Linked DNA regions of Homo sapiens: region 1 is linked to region 2. The links come from fine-mapping of genetic effects on gene expression. A gene starts in region 2. The other region holds a variant in brackets. All regions are shown on one strand. Distances are between the middles of the regions.

The links.
Region 1: its variant is fine-mapped to the expression of SYNM in whole blood (INTERVAL, PIP 0.98).

What each region holds. Positions count from the first base shown.
Region 1 is chr15:99,122,493-99,130,818 of GRCh38, reverse strand. SYNM (synemin) reads right to left here. Exons shown (of 4, transcript NM_145728.3): 3 at 4,027-4,097; 4 at 1-1,452. Among named protein-coding and RNA genes, the nearest start is that of TTC23-AS1, 13 kb to the left of the region's middle. The variant C/G (reference allele first, on the strand shown) is at 3,500.
Region 2 is chr15:99,101,358-99,109,683 of GRCh38, reverse strand. It overlaps SYNM (synemin), which reads right to left and starts at 4,604. Exons shown (of 4, transcript NM_145728.3): 1 at 3,675-4,604. The coding sequence starts at 4,484. SYNM-AS1 (SYNM antisense RNA 1) reads left to right here and starts at 3,807. Exons shown (of 3, transcript NR_187219.1): 1 at 3,807-3,996. RefSeq lists silencers at 3,495-3,664, 3,945-4,854.

The DNA of each region.
Region 1 (8,326 bases), 21 kb before region 2:
CTGTCACTTCTTCCACGTGAGTCGTGTTCTCCTGAGGCTGCTTGGTCCTTCGATGCTGATTAACTGAGAATGTGACATCGCTTTCTCCATAACCTTCCTCCTCCTTAACCAACCCCCAGGGGCCTGGCGACACATCTTCGACCTCCTCCACTTTGAATGGGACGGAAAACTCCTCCGGCTTCTCCCCGCTGACATAACTCACGGGCTCCTCCACGATCTCCACGTTGACGACCTTTGCTCTCCCCTCCCTCCCTTTCAGGCCGAGGTTGATGATGTCTCCTATCATCTGCTCGGCTGACTTGCCTTTCAGCCCCACTTCCTTAATATCCTTGCTTAAAAGGTAGTCCAGGCCAGCTTCATCGGAAACATCAACATCCTCAGTCAGTTTAGACTCCACAACTATTTCAGTCTTTGTTTTCCTTTCCCCAGGAAGCTCTTTCCTGTCCACGTAAGTGACTTTTGTGTCTGGAAAAGAATCAGCAGATGCTTCTGTCTCTGGAGACTGAGTGAACTGCTTCAGGATACTGGTAACGATGTTTTCTGCTACGGTTTCTGTCATGGAATCGCCTTGCAGAGAACCAGTGGCATCACTGGTGCCCAACCTGAACCGTAGCTCTCTTGCTTCTGCCTCTCTACCGGTCCCACCACCAGCATCCTTCACAGGCGTCTGCAAACCTTTCGGGGACACCTCTGCTCTTCTGTCCTGGGATACTTCTAGACTAATCGGCACCTCTCTCTCTCGCACGCTCTTCTCCTTCGGTGAGTCCTTCTCCTTAGCCTTCTCCTTCATCTGCTGGCTTTCTCTCTGTCTCGCTTCCTTATCTAACTTTGTCAATTCTTCCCATCTTAGGTTTCTCTCCTCGGAAGCCTTCTCTTTAGAATCGAACATTTTCTCTTCTGGCTTTGTTCGGATGGTTTCTGGTCTGTTTCTTTCTTGCTCCCTCGTGGCTTTCACTTCTGTTTTCTTTCCCAGAATGACGGTCCTCTCATTTGACCGTGTGCTTTCCGAAGCACCTGCTGCCACCTTGTCTCGGCGATCCCGGTACGACTCGCGGGCAATTGTGGAATCTTCACCTATGTAAACGGGGACCTCCCTTGTATCTCCGGCTTTTGGTCTGTCAGGGAATGTTTTCACTTGAGCCTCAGTATTTCTTAAAAGGCCATAGGTTGGAGAGAAAGTTCTGACGTTGGTTTGACTGCTGACGGCTTTTCCGTATGAGTTTTCCTGCTGGGTAGTGGCCGAGGAAGAATATCCCGAGCCCAAGAAGCCTCTTCTGGCATCACCTCCAATAGATGTGCCCGTCTGAGATCCACGGTGCCCTGACAGGTTAGAATACAGTGCCGAGCTGTGATTGAAACTTGCCAAAGGTGCTTTCTGCCTTGAAAATAGATTCCTTTCATTTTCCCTCTGTAGTAGTGAGTCGGTATAGTGATAGGATTTGTTTCTGAATTCTGTAGAAATTGAACAAAGCATTCATTAAAATGACAGTCATCATTACCCTTTTCCATCTACAAGCATTGTTGCAGGCCAAATCCCATTCCATCATAATAAATATACACTGTTACCACAGAAAGCTCATTATAAAGATAAGTTATATTTGGTGCCCAAATTATTTTTTGGCAGTTTACAAAATCCTGTTACAATAAAATGTAGCACTACAAATACTTCAGCCTAACACGTTTCTCCAGTTACTGATATTAAAATACTCACTCATCTTAACATTAATCATAAAGCACAATGCATATCCCAGAGAGGTCAGAGGTGCTCGTTTTTGTGGCTGAAATTTCACAATCTTATATTTTGAAATCATTAATTTCTGCTTTTTGAGGTAAGTTTAATTTACTGTAGCAGAGAAGAGCTCTGTAATTACAAAGTGTGTCATTATTAAACACCAAATAGCATTATCCTCCACTATTTAATATACTCTTCTGTTTCACTGATTTCCATATTGGGCCAACAAGTATTAAAGAATTTAACTTCTTTAAGCTTTCTGATCTTTTATTTTACATTTAACACTTATCTGAAAAGGAGCCAGTGCAGAAACACCCCGGTCTGTCTTAGTGTCATGATCCTGAAGTTGGGAGGCAGTCCTCAGGGCTTCCAGCTTTGCTCCAGGCTGTTTGCAGACAGTGCTACCCTTTGGGGTGTCCACACCCCAGCAGGGGAAACCGCTCTTTAGGAATGGCAGCTGGTGGTTAGAACGCAGCCAGGAGCACCGTCCACCCCGAGAGTGCCCCTGGTGTCTACCCACACCCCAGCTGGCTCAGCGGGGACAGGGCTTTCTCTCTCCCTTATGGAGCCAAGGCCAGAGGCCTCCTTTGCACAGATCCCAAGATACAGGAAAGAGACCAGGCCAGGACATTTTCTACAAGACTCCTCTTTTCAGGTCAACTGATCCTACTGATCCAACTGAGAAGTCCCAGAAGATGAACCCCCAGGCAATAGTGCAGGGACCATCTCATTTACAGTTAAGATTCAACAAGAAACATGGAAGATTACAGACTGGGTTTAGGTCCACCGGCTAGCGGGCAAGCGGCCAACATTATTTTATGCAATATTATAAAAGAAACACAAGCACACTAACAAGTATTGATAAGTTCACTACTTAGGAACTTATCTGTATATTTACTCAACAGAACAGAACTATCTAGAAGCTCAACGTCTAATAAAAATTCCCAACTAGTAATTTTTATTCTAAAGCTTTTGGCATAATATGTAATTGCCAGAATAAATTTAGTTTACAAATATTAAGTCTCTATTTCCTTCAAGAAGCTTGAAAAATAATGAATGAATGAATGAATGAATGAATGAATGAAGCAAGTTAACAGCAACAGCTGTTAGCCCCTCTGTGTGCTCTCCCTCGGCCCCAAAATCACAACTGGGAAAATTTGAGCAAGGCCCTGGCTTAGACTGTTGGTCTTCCTCGGAGCTCCTGGGCCCTTTTCTTCCTTCTCCCCTCTCTCTAGGTTACATGATGGATGTCCAAACTTAGGTATCCACAGGTTAAAAATGTAGGTAACTAAGTAAACCTTGAAATCTGGGGAGTTAATTCTTGTTTTATAGATGTCACACGTTAACTGATGCCAGGCAGGTTGACCAATGCCTACCCTTCCATGAACACCTTTGCTTTTTTCAAACTTACTCTCAAAATTAGAAAGAAAATTTGCTGCATGTTGTCTAAGACCAGATCCCTTCCAGTTATAGATGACTAGAACCCAAATATTCTTCTCAACCCAGTGACATGTCAAATCCATGAGTTGCCTAAAAGAAACAATGAAGACTAAAACCATGCTGCTGCCTAAGGTGTGAACTCAACATTCTATACGTAATTTAATCGACACTTGCTTAGCCAGAGCTCTTCAAGATTCTATAGGGCTTTAAAAGGTTAAAAAACAAGTTATCCCTCAGTTTCTTAGGATCTTTCTAATGAACATTAATGATCTTATGTCAGTTCTGCAGCCATAGGAAGGATGGGCCCTGTCCTGAGGCTCTTGGCCT[C/G]AATAAGGTAGTCTTCAAGGCACCAGGACACATTTTCCTGAGCTGCTCACAACAACCTAGGGTGGTGTAAACAATGTAACTATTCCCATCTCTCTTCCTGTTAGGGTAGCAGGTTCCAGAGTGCTGCCTGCCTGCCATCCAAGGCCATACCTCCCTCTACAGGTGTAACAACCATAACCCCTTGGTCTGGAAATGGAAGGAGTGTCCCTTCCAGGGGTGTGAAACACAAGTTCAGGTGCACTCCTGCTCGCCCTCACACTGCCCAGTGCCATTAGCCCCTTCCGCTCCTGCATCCTGTCGAGAGAGGGACCAAGTTTATCAAGCACCTTCCCAAACATTCTCATTCACATAATTGAAATTATGTCACACTAAACTAAAATCTATTTGGTACTTAAATGAGAGATGAACTCCTGTTATCTAAACACCATATCTAACCCGTTCTTCCCGATGATGGTGCTTTACTATCTAGCCACAGAATAAACAGTTCAGATGCCTAAAGCTAAGTCAAGTCATTAGCTTTTACTTACCTGACGGCATGTTTTCAACGTGCTCAGCCCAGATCACTATCTCTGGATTACTTTCTCCTTCCAATAAGGCCCTGTAAAAATAATTTACAAACATAATTCATTAGGAAACGAAAGAGTAAGAAGTGCCTCTAATAAAACGTATCGTGGTATGCGGCCAATGACCATAGTGTCACCTGTTTTAGGACTTCTACCTGAAGAGGAGACTTGGGCAGGGCTGCACCATAGGGCTGGCAAGCCCACCCACCAGCCTCAGCAGACCTGGGCCAGGCCACCTGCTCTGCTCACCGCCACATCCCTGGCAGCCAGCATGGCGCTCAACCCCTACTAGCCCAGTGAACAAAATGACCAGGCCAGGGCTTCGGCAGTACTGGCGAGCCAAGCCCTTCTAGAAAGCTTTCTCAGTCCAGGGTGAAGAGGAGCAGGAGCAAGGGGGCACTGGAGAGATGTGGGCCCCAGGCTAGAGGGCCCCAGAGCAGCTACACCCCCCACTGGGTTCTTCCTGGAGTCACAGCTGGTGGGGGCAGCTTGCAGAGGGCTGACCAGGAGACGGCAGGGACTGACACTTATAAGGCAGCCAGACTGCATCTGTGGTTTCAAACTGCATTCCAGGGGGTCACCTTGGAGACGACAAAAAGAAGTAGAAGGCAGGCAGACGGAAAAGGTAGTGCTAAAGCGCCCCCCGTCAGTAGCCCCTCCCCATGCCACCCCCAGGGGCCTCACTTCATCCAAATTGGCATCCTGTTATCTCCTTTAATAAAATGGTGAGAAGTACCCAACAAGGTGATTTCTTTGACTATGTCTGCGCCAAAGTTCTAAAATTATAGAAGTTTCATTAGGTTGTTCACGTCTACTGCTTCAGATCCCAGAGCTGAGGAGAGTGGTCCCAGCAGACCCAGCCTGCTGGCGAGGGGCTTAGCACCGGGATGCCTGTCAGCCAGTCACTCGCGAAGACCCCTTGGGCTGCTGGCAGCTCTGGGTGCAACAGTTTCTCAGTTGCTAGAGCAACATGTGAAGTCACTAACTCCGGTTCCAAGAAATACACTGCACACGGCAAAAGGCATCCAGAACAAGAGCCCACTGAGAAATGCCAATCTTATGGCTGAGAGCTGGGCACAAAAACGGAGCAGGGTGCCCACACCCGAGCAGGGACTTGGCAGCTTGGACAAACTGCACTGAGTTGTATTTCCATCTGTTGAAACATGGTGAGCCCCATGAACACGAGAGCCCTGTGAGCAGCTGGAAGAAAGCAAAGGAGGCATGAGGCACTCTCGCGAAGGCGCACACAGCGGGCCTGCCCCGGCGCAGTGACTGCGGGATGCTTGTGTGTGGACGGGGCATGTGCAGAGGCCCGAGTCCAGAGCCCCAGCCCTTCGCTCAGGGCAGAGGCCAGGAAACAGGACACCAACCCATTAATCCCACGCCCTCATGACCAAGCATTGTAGGTTCCAGGAACGCAAACAGCTTTCACTGCTGAGAAAGTTCTGAGGTCTATATAATCAGAGGAACATTCGGGGTAAAAGCCAGGCCCCAAGGCTCTGCACCCCAGGATGACGGCAGCAGAAGGGGTGGCGTCCTGCAGCTGAGGAGCCAGGGCAGGGCGTGGGGAGAAAGACTAGGTTCTAGTTCAGATCCTCCCGGCCTGGCTCAGCTGTGAACCTCGGGTACCACGGGGCCTCTCCCTTGAGCTGCCCAAGTTAGAACGGAAGGTATGTTGCTGTCCAGGGAAAAATACGTCTTCCCCACCCTCCAAAGGGAATGCATCTGCTCCTCTTCCAGAATTCCAAAGCATCACCAAACCTTCATAGAGTTCAGGACCCACACGAAACAGGCACCAGCCCTGCGTGGGGCTTCTGGCTGGGTTCAGGGGACAAGATACAGCCCCACAGCTTCCCCTTTCTAGGCCTTTACCATCCCTGGCTGACACTGAGCACCAGGCATTGTGGTCACTCATGTACTTACACCGTCGAAGCCACCCCCAACACAGGGCCTGTGGCTGCATCCTCGCTCTAGAGGTGAGAAGACTGGGGTGCAGAGACAGCGTCTTGGTCAAGGGCATACGGCTCACCAGTAAAGAGAAAAATGCAAACCCAGGCAGCCTGAGCTCTCAGCCCCCTCCCCTGCGATACCACTAGGCCTCCCAGTGAGGCCAGAGACCATGGTATTGCACACAAATTTCAGAAAGCACAAATCCTACAGATAGACCCTCCGGGCCATATTAATGAAAATAAATTCTCTTGGTGATTTCATCCAAAATGGCCCTGCAGAGCTCTCCTATAAGTAAGAAGCTCCTGCTGGAGAAGGAGCTATCCCTCATCTGTGTCCCTTCTCAATGGCCGGATCCTAGCAGGCAGCGACACATGTCACCTTTACTATCTGTGAGCACCCGGCTGGGCACTGGCCATTGAGTTCATGCTTTGGGTAGCACATCCAGCCCAATGGCAGCCACCCTCCTTCCGCACAGCCCCAGGACTACACGGCGAAAGCATCAACAAGACTCTGAGGAGAAGCCAGAAACCACGACTTCCTCTAAAGCTCTGCAAGGGACATTTTTAAGGAATAGGTTCGTACCACTTTAAGAAATGGGTAGCATGTTCTCTGAGGCTGCAATCAAACCTGGTTATTTTGAGAGCGGTGGAGGAAATCTGCCCCCAAGCCTCGGGGACTGTGAGAAATGCCAATCCCCTGAGTCATGGGCTATTGTGGGCATTTCACACAGCTCCACAGGTTGGTGGCCCCTTATGCAGGAAAATAAGCAAAAGTGCAAGAAAACTCAAGTCCCTGGCCTCATTAAGGAGCCCAGGACAAACCCACAGTGCAGAAGCCGGCTGTCATGTGGCCTCTGGCCAGGCGCCAGGCCCTAATGGGCCACCCGGCGTCCTGAGCAGGCTCCAAGGCAAGGCTCTCTGTCTGGGATAGATTATCCTAATGGAATTGCTGAACAATCCGCCGTGACTCAGCACCGTGGGCACAAGGCCACTGCTCTGTGCAGCCCCATAAATGAGGCACTGTCAGGATGTTCCCAGAAGCCGTGTCTGTGCGGGAGCCTGCTGGGGCCGGGGCCGGGGCCTGTGGGTGATTCACGGGGTGCTTCCTAGCAAACAGCAGGTGGAGAAGTGCAGAGAAGAAAGGGAGGCTCCGGAGCTGGAGAAGGAGCCGCAGAGCCGCCTCCCTCGACTCCTCACTGCGACAGAGGAAGCCAAGCTCCACACAGAGTGGACGCACTGCCTGGGTCACCCCAGATGCGGGCCCGTGGCTGGTCAGTCACCGGGAAGACCAGGGAACAGAAGGGAGGGGGCAGAGGGGAGTTCCATTCCCATGACCAGCAACGCCACCTGAACGGGAAAGGTGAGACCACCGGCTTCACAGGAAGGATAACAGGAGGTAACGTGGCAGTGCTGGGCCATTTCCGGGCATCGCTTCTGGGGTCAGTATTCAACCACATCCCAGAGCCATCTCTAGGTCAATACTAGAGACTGAAAAAAAAAAAAACCAGATAATCAACAGAGACAAACATCACTCATAAAACAGAGAGGAAGCAAGCGCAGGACAAAGTTCTGGAGTCAGGATGTCTGGATTCAGATCTGAGACCTGCCACTTCCTAGTTCTGTGACCCTGGCAGGCCGCTCAAACCCACTGTGACTCAGTTTCCCTATTTCTGAAATGGAGAGAACTCACAGGTTTGCAGTAGGAATTAATCAAGAAGCAGAAAGTTCTCAGAACCATGGCTGTCACAGAGTAAGAGCTCACTAAACATCAGCGATCACGTCGTCCCCACCTCCTTCTACATCCTCCAAAGAAAACTGATTTCCAGCTAACTAAAATGAGTCAACAAGGGAAGGGACTGTGGACCATCTGTATTTTATAGTTAACTGAATGTTAACTCATTTATTTGACCAGCAACCAAAGGTACTGGTCGATCCTTTCAATTATATATTCTATTTATTTATTTATGTAGAGACAGGATCTTGCTCTGTCGCCCAGGCTGGAGTGCAGTGGTGCCATCTCAGCTCACGGCAATCTCTGCCTCCTGGGCTTAGGTGATCCTCCCACCTCAGCCTCCCAAGTAGCTGGGACTACAGGCACGTGCCACCACACCCAAATAGTTGTTTTTGTATCGTTTGTAGAGATGGGGTTTCACCATGTTGCCCAGGCTGGTCTCCAACTCCTGGGCTCAAACGATCCACCTGCCTCAGCCTCCCAAAGTGCTAGGATTACAGGCGTGAGCCACCATGCCCAACTCTATTCTTACAACTACAAGATTTTTATTCACTTCAAGTATTTTATCTAGTAACTAGATAAG
Region 2 (8,326 bases):
GCTGTTAGCTGAACGAATGAACCAGTTGTACACACCCTGGGAGCTACTTCCAGTACCTCGTTTCACAAATGGGGAAACTGAATTGCAGACAGGTTAAGGAACGTAACCTGCCCAAAGAGCGGCAGAGTCAGAATTCAGGGCCAGGTAGGACAGCTGCAGAGCACTGACCCTTAGCTAATCCCATCCTAATCCCACCCCACCTTCCCATCTACAAAAAGCTTTCATTCAATCATGTTTTGGGGGCTTGGAAGCCTTTTCCAGTCAGCCTCAGCAGCTAAGGGCTCACTTTCATAAGCAAAAATCTCCGTGTTTGCAGGGTGAAGCTGGTCTCCACTTTATCGCAAATGTCTTCAAGTGTTTTCTGAAGCCCCCTCCTGCAGCCTGGGTGTGTCACTCAGGCTTCAAGTGATCTAGATCACATTTGGGAACTTGGATGTCAGTTCAGCAAACTCTTCTCGGGCAAATCTGAGGCCAGGCCTGGGGCAGGCCAATGACTACCGCCTCATACAGTGAAGGCGCATGGGCCATCTGGGAAGGACCAGTTTCCCCTCAAGTAGAATCCTAGCAAGCATCTTCCCCCTTGAGCCACAGAAGCTATAGCCAGAGGCAGGGAGAGCTGGGCACAATGTGGCAGCACCCTCTGCTGCCTCCAGCTCCTGCCTCCAGGGGAGGGGGGCATTAAAGCACATGGAACACAGAAAAAAAGAAATGAAAGAAAATAGTTTTAATGCCAAAACTATTCAGCCAGCTGGAGGGGTCTAAAAGCATTTTAGGACTTGAAATCAGCAGAGTACCTCGGGCTAGCCCTTAGGAAGAGCAATTATCATTATGCTATGAATGCAAGAATACTGGTTAAAGGTTTCTCTCTGATCAAACAGACAGAAGAGAGAAACGGACGCCCAGCGGTCAGTTGCTCAGGCACTAGAGCCTGAGTTGAATCCTGGCTTAACTACTTACTAATCAGGTGACTTATGTGCCTCAGCTTCCTCCTCTGTAAAATGGAGCTTATATTAGTACCCACTTCGTAACACTGGTGTGGGCACTGAGAGTGAATATTTGTGAAGGGCATCTGTGGTACCTGGCACACACGAAGCACTTGCTAAAGGCTCTTAGTAATAAGATATTTATTACCATATACTAATTCAACCCATTTTTAGGATTTTTTCACTCTCCCCATAGTAAGCTTCTACAGAACCCGAAAAAAATTACAGGCTTGGGGTTAAATCATCCATACTCCCTCTTTCACATACTTCCTAGCATCTCTGTGATTGGTGCTGAATCTTCTGGAATGCAATTTGAAATGGAGTTGACTTAAGTTAACTGAGGGAAGATTCAGTATATGGACAAGGTAGTGACTGGTAACACTTAGTGCAGTAAAACCTCTGCAAATTGGAACTGGAAAAAAAAAATGGCCGGGCACATGGCTCACACCTGTAATTTCAGCACTGTGGGAGGCCACGGCCGGTGGATCACTTGAGGTCAGGAGTTTGAGACCAGGCTGGCCAACATGGTGAAACCCTGTATCTACTAAAAATACAAAAATTAGCCAGGCGGGGTGGTGGGATCCTGTACTCCCAGCTACTCGGGAGGCTGAGGCACGAGAATCACTTGAGCCCAGGAAGCGGATGTTGCGGTGTGCCGAGATCAGCCACTGCACTCCAGCCTGGGCGACAGAGCAAGACTCCGTCTCAAAAAACCAAAACCAAAACCAAAACCAAAACCAAAAAAAAAACAAAACAAAAAACAAAAAAAAAAACCAGGTCCTTATTGACATTTTCCTCGCTCTTTGCTTTTAGGAAAAAGCAGCAAATTCCAACAAGAGAGAAGTATCACTGGATGGCAAACGGAGAGTGGGGTCCCAGCCTCACTCTGAGGGCAGGTATGACCTCAGGAAAAGCACTTCCCCGGTGGGCCCTGGAGTCCCTGTGTCAAAGGAGGGCTGCACAGGATTCTAACTGCACTTCAAGTCCCCATGTCTCCTCCAGTCAGGGGAACTCTGCTTTCATATGGCTCACATTACGAGTTCCACTGAAGGTTTCATTAGTGGGGAAAAGGGCTTTGCCGCTAAGAAAGAACACTGGAACCAGAATTTGAAGGTCTGAAATGTGCCAAGTGAGCTGTGGCTGTGAACGCATGGTGACGATTTGGTCCACACAGCGTGGCTCAAAGCAGCATTTTCTAAACCTGCCTGCACAGCACAGACCCCTGAGTTGGTAGCGAGGGTTCCCTACAAAGGGGTTCCCTGGGCAGTAGGTTTGACAGATACTCCTTTTTGGAGAGTCAAAATAACCACTGGTCAAATCTCCATGAATGCCACATTAAGGCACTTTTTAACTTTCACTCAACAACGAGTATAGGACCTGTGGAACTCAGACCCCTGGCCACTGTCATTGCAAAGGGACACAAGTGCTCACAAGTGGAAATCGGTACACACTGGGTCAGTCCCTGTCCCTGCTCTAGCTATGGCAAAGCCCCAAGAGAACACTTTGAAAAGTTATGAGGCGGAAGCCAAACAAAACCCACAACTCAAAAGATTAAATCCCAATGTAGTACCATATTGCATTCTATGATTTCCCATCTAGCCTGTAGCTCTTTGCATACTGAAAGTCTAGGGCAGTGCTGGGGACCCAGGGAGAATCAACAGGTATTTACTCATCACCTGTGGATACCTGTCACATCACCGCAGTCATTCCATATGACAACCCCCATGTTCCTCTCACTTCTAATTTTTAAAAGTCAGTCTCAAATCTTTAACTCACAGCTGCAAACTGTACTCTTAAAATATTTGTGAAATTGTGCAGATGTTATTTCCATCTGTCCTTTTGAGAACTACTGATAGTGTGATTTGGGAATATTTCCAATTCTGGCTGAGGCAGGGCAGGGCGAGGGCCAAACGCTAGGGCTGGACTGGGCATAGTTTACATCAGCCACAGGTGTCACCCCGCCGGTGTCAGAGGGTTTGCTTCCCTGAAATAGTAACTGTTTATATCACTCTGCACTTGTAATAACATCCTGCCAAAGGGCCCCACTTTCCCACAACTTTTACACTACGCAGAGATCTGACGTCAGCGTGTGCTGTGAGCAAAACATCTTCGATCAAGCTCTGTTCTGCATGAGGGTTGCTGCCCCTCCCAAGATCAAACAAGGCAGCCGCCCAGAGAGCCACAACTGCGGCTTCCAACTGGGAAATCATATTGGCAAAATAAAAACCGTTTTGGAAATTAATTTGAGTTTTCCCCTGAGGAGCGCTATAGACAGCGGGGCTACCATAAGCCGTCACTTCTGCAAGTGAGAGAGGTTTCTCGGTTGACTCTTAGATCTGGGTCTACTGAGTCTACGGAGCACGGAAAATGGAAGGAAAACCTAGAGCTAACAGGGTGGCCTATCAGGATGCGCCCAGTCACGCTTGTCAAGAGTTAAAGCAGCTGCCACCTAACCCCATGACGAGGACGGGGCTATCCGCTAGGACCTGCCGCCCCGCGCTCGCCCGCTGAGTCGATGGACCAGCGGACCGAGTCCGGGTCCCCATGCCATTCGGGCACCCTCTGGGCGGGCCCTACCGGTCCGCGACGCCGCGCCCCTGGTGAAGGGGCCGCTGCCCCACGCCGTCAAGGGCAGGGTGCTGGGGCGACGGCAGCGGGTATGGGGTCAGCGCGCCATCCCCGCGCACGGACCTGCCGCTCCTCGGCCTGTATCCCGTACTCCTCGCGCATCCGCAGCAGCGCGTCCTCCAGCCGCGCGCGCAGCTGCTCCAACCCGAGCGCCTCGCGCCGCAGCGCCTCTGCCTCCTGCGCGCACAGCCGCGTCTCTTCCTCCGCCTGGAGTCTGCTCTCCTGGCCGCGCCGCAGCGCCTCCTCCAGCTCGCGCACCTCGTCCTCGTACAGCTGCACCGTCTCCCGCCACGACTCGGCCACCAGCAGTGCGTAGCTGTCGTGCACCTCCCGCAGGCGTGGCGGCGGCGCGGCGGGGCCGGTGGCGCGGGCGCGGAAATGCATGGTAAGGCTGGCGGCGCGCGCGCGCAGCTCCCTCACGTCGCGTTCGTGGGCCGCGTCGAGGCCTCGGCGCTCGGCCTGCAGCCGGCCCAGCAGCGCCTCGAGGGCGGCGCGCGCGCCCAGCGCCTCCTGCAGCTCGCGCTGCTGCGCACCCAGCTCGGCGTCCAGGCGGCCGCGGGCGGCGCGCTCCTCCGCATCCAGGCGCTGCAGCTCCCGCAGCTCGCGCCGCAGAGCGTCCCGCTCGCCCTCCGCCAGCGCAGTGGCCCAGCTCAGCTCGTCCAGCTGCTGCCGCAAGCTGCGCGCCTCCTCGGCGCAGCGGGCCTGCCCCTCGGCCCACAGGCCCTCTCGCCCGCGCCGGCCGCGCAGCTCCTCCTCCAGGAGTAGGTTTTCGCGCTCCAGCTCCCGCACCCGACACACGTAGTCATAGAGCCGGGCGTTGAGCTCCTGGAGCTCGGCCTTCTCGGGGCCCGTCTGCAGCCGCCAGGACAGCATCTTGCCGGGCGTGCGGGGTTCTCGCGGCTGGCCGGCTCCCTCCTGCCCTGGTCTTGTCCCGGTCTCGTCCTCTCCGCCGCGACGCTCCGGCCTCGCCGCTGCCCCGGAGGCCCGCAGACTGGGACGCGAGCGGGAGAGCCCAGGCACTTAGCGGACGGGGCGGGCAGACTGGGCGGGCGGCCTGGGCGAGGGCCGCGGCCTCCAGCCAATCAGAGCGCGGCCCGGCGCGGCCTCTGCGGCCGCACAGCGCCCCCTGCCGCACCTTGGCGGCCGCAGGTGGTCGGTGCGGGCAGTCGGGTAACAGCGGGCGGGGTGGCGGGCTAGCCAGGCCGGGCTCAGCGAAGGGACGCCGGAGAGGGCGTCCGGGAGCATACGAGTGTCCTGGCCTTGGTGGATGGAAATAGAAGCCTATTGAGTTGCTGTGGTGCTGGCGATTTTGGAGCGACTTCTTACCCGAGGCCCTGGAGATTGGTGGCTTTTCTATTTTTAAAAAAACGATATGGGCCGGGCGCGGTGGCTCAGGCCTATAATCCCAGCATTTTGGGAAGCCGAGGTGGGAGGCTCGCTTGAGCCCAGGAGTTCGAGACCAGCCTGAGCAACATAGAGAGACCCTGTCTCTACCAAAAAAAAAAAAAAAAAAAAAATATATATATATATATATATATATGGAGCCTGGCGTGGTGGTGTCACACGCGCTGCTTGGGAGGCTGAGGCGGGAGGATTACTCGAACCCAGGAGTTCAGGGCTGCAGTGAACCTGATTGTGGCACTGCGCTCCAGCCTGGGCAACAGAGAGAGGCCTCATCTCATATATATACATTACACATACATGTGCATTAATTTTTTTTTTTTTTTTTTTGAGACAGAGTGTCGCTCTTGTTGCCCAGGCTGGAGTGCAATGGCACGATCTCGGCTCACCACAGCCTCCGCCTCCCGGGTTCAAGCGATTCTCCTGCCTCAGCCTCCCGAGTAACCGGGATTACAGGCCAGCGCCACCACGCCTGGCTAATTTTTTTTTTTTTTTTTTTTTTTTTTTTTTGTATTTTTGGTAGAGACGGGGTTTCTCCATGTTGGTCAGGCTGGTCTCGAACTCACGACCTCAGGTGATCCGCCCACCTCGGCCTCCCAAAGTCCTGGGATTACTGGCGTGAGCTACCGTGCCCAGCCTAAATAATCTTTTTAACTTAAAACATAAATATATATCCATTTACCAGTATTTTAATGTGCAAAATACTTCTCTTGATGTCAGTTGACAGGAGTCCCAGTTGCCCTTCTTATACAAGCTACCCTCATAGTACATTACATTTTCCAAAACGAATTTCTTTCATTTGGAGTGAAAACTTAGAGACCATAAAGTGCTCCAAGTACAGAACTTTCTAGACATCTAACATCTCCCCGAACTTTTACAAATCTCACACACACACCCCTAATGTGACAGCTGTTTCTTTCCAGCATTTCCCTAAGAAAGTATTCAGTTTAATTGCCATGGAAACCACAGCTCTTTTTTGTACACTTGCATTTCATTAGTTTTCATGGCAGTTATTTATGAATGACAGTTCTCAGTATAAGTGTCATTAAGGCTCACAGGGACAAACCAGCTGACCCTTGGTTGGGGTGCCCTTGAACTTGTGGCAACACAAGTGCCCAGGGCGAGACCTGGACGGTCATCCACTGGCCAGAGGGCTCCTCATGGCAGGGCCAGCAGTTAGTGTATTTTACAGATGGCATGGAAAGGTGGACTACTCAGCAAGCTGGTCCAGGGCCTCTGACAAAGCTTCTAGTGCTCTCCTTGTCACAGCCATGAGCCTCCAATCACAAGCAAGGCAGAAAGTGGCCCTTCCTTTTTCTAGAGACCCTATGTTGGAGATCCCATTCTGTAGGTGGTAGAAATTAATATCTTTCAATGAATAATTCCCTGTCCTTTTCTGCTAAAACTAAGTGGGGGTGGAAAGTGGGTTTATTCAGTGCTTGGGTTCATTCACCTTGGTGTGGGACAGGGGGATTTGGACCCCCATCACCCCATCATTGTCCATCCTCCCATTCCCCCAGGTGCACACTGACACCTGGCCTTTGCTTGTCAAACACCAGAGCTGCTGTGGTGTCATCGCCCAAACCTATGTGGAGACCCTGCCGGTCCTGGGCCCCTCTGGGACATTGGGGTGCGGGGGGGCGGCTCTCACAGTTGCCTGGACTCCGCTGCAGCTGTTTGTTCTCAGCTCTTTGACTCCCCACGCTAACGGGTTCTGCTGTCCCACATCCCCTGGCTGGGCAGGGGGCAGCCCTGCAGGGTGGGAGAGCCTTCTCAGGGACCAGTGAGTCCCAGCAGGACACTTTGCAGTGACTCATTAGTCTTTCTTTGCCCAGTGCCCTTCAGGGTCTTGGACTTTGAAACTCAAAACCCTTTCCCCCATTTCTGCTGTAAATCCTGTCCCTGAGGAATTGACTGCTCCAGCATGCAGCTGCCCCGGTAGGGAAAGAGTTATAGGGGATCAGGAACTAGCAGGGCCGGGAGGTGGGAGGGGGGAAGTACCCCCAGCTACTCTTTCAGGATAATATCCTGCTGCTTCATACTGAATCCTCACAACACTGAAGCTCGGAGGGGTGAAGTGACTAGAAGTATTAGAGTTGTGACCACAAGAGCAGACTTGAGCAGGCAGGGTCTGGCCAGGAAGCAGAGGCAAACTCAGAGGGAAGGGAATGATTGATGGGATGGGGATGGATGGGATGAGGAAGCACCAGGGACCAGCAAGAGCAAGAAGCTAAGAAGCCGTTAGCGCCTTAGGGTGTTGGCTGAGCCTGGAGAAGCCCAGAGCGCTGGAAAAGAGGAGCAGAATGGATCCCAGGAGGGAGCAAGAGGAGGAAAACCCAGTTCTTCCTTCATCCAAGCCTCCCTTCTCTTGCCAATACTTCCCGCTGTGGAAGCCAGAAGTCACAGGAGCCTGGCAGTGGTGCACTGCGGTTGGCTCCCACAGGTTTGTGAGTGCCAACTGTTAAATTTTTAGAATTTTATGAACCACTTGTTAAACACAGCCATTATTAAAAATTAATTATAGAAGCTTACAACTAATTATACAAAAAGAGCAAACACATATTCAAAACGTATCACTTCCTCAGTATTTCACTGCATTTTCCTATGATCTGCTCTTGAAGTTATGAATGAGCAGTGTGCCTGCACCATAGAAATGCCATTTAATGTGTACTACCCTACTCCATATTCACTGACATCATGTTGGTAGCTTGAGTATTTACAACACAGAAATCAGCCAATGACTTGTTTTTGTGGATTTGATGTTTTGTTGATTGTCTAGCCTTTAAAAGCAGTGGAGAGTATGTTAATAGTGCAGATTAAATTTAGTGGTATGTTGTGTGTCTAGCTATTGAATTGTGAACAGCACAAAAACGTGAGGAAATGTTTGTCCGGTGTCTCGAAACTTGTATCCAGATCAGGAAAGAAGTTGCTTCATAGCTGGGCGTGGTGGCTTACACTCGTAATACCAAGACTTTGGGAGGCCAAGGCATGCAGAGCACTTGAGCTCAGGAGTTCGAGACCAGCCTGGACATGGCAAAACCCCCTCTCTACAAAAAATACAAAAATTAACTGGGCATGGTGGCATGCACCTGTAATCCCAGCTACTTGGGAGGCTGAAGTGAGAGGATTCCTTGAGCCCAGGAGATCGAGGTTTTGGTGAGCCATGATTGAGCCGTTGCACTCCAGCCTGGGTAGCAGAGTGAGATCCTGTCTTAACAAAATTTAAAAATACAAAAAAAATTTAAAAAGAAGTTACATCATGATGAAGAATAAATGAAATTTCTCAGTTATTTCACCTTTGTCTTTCTTGCTAA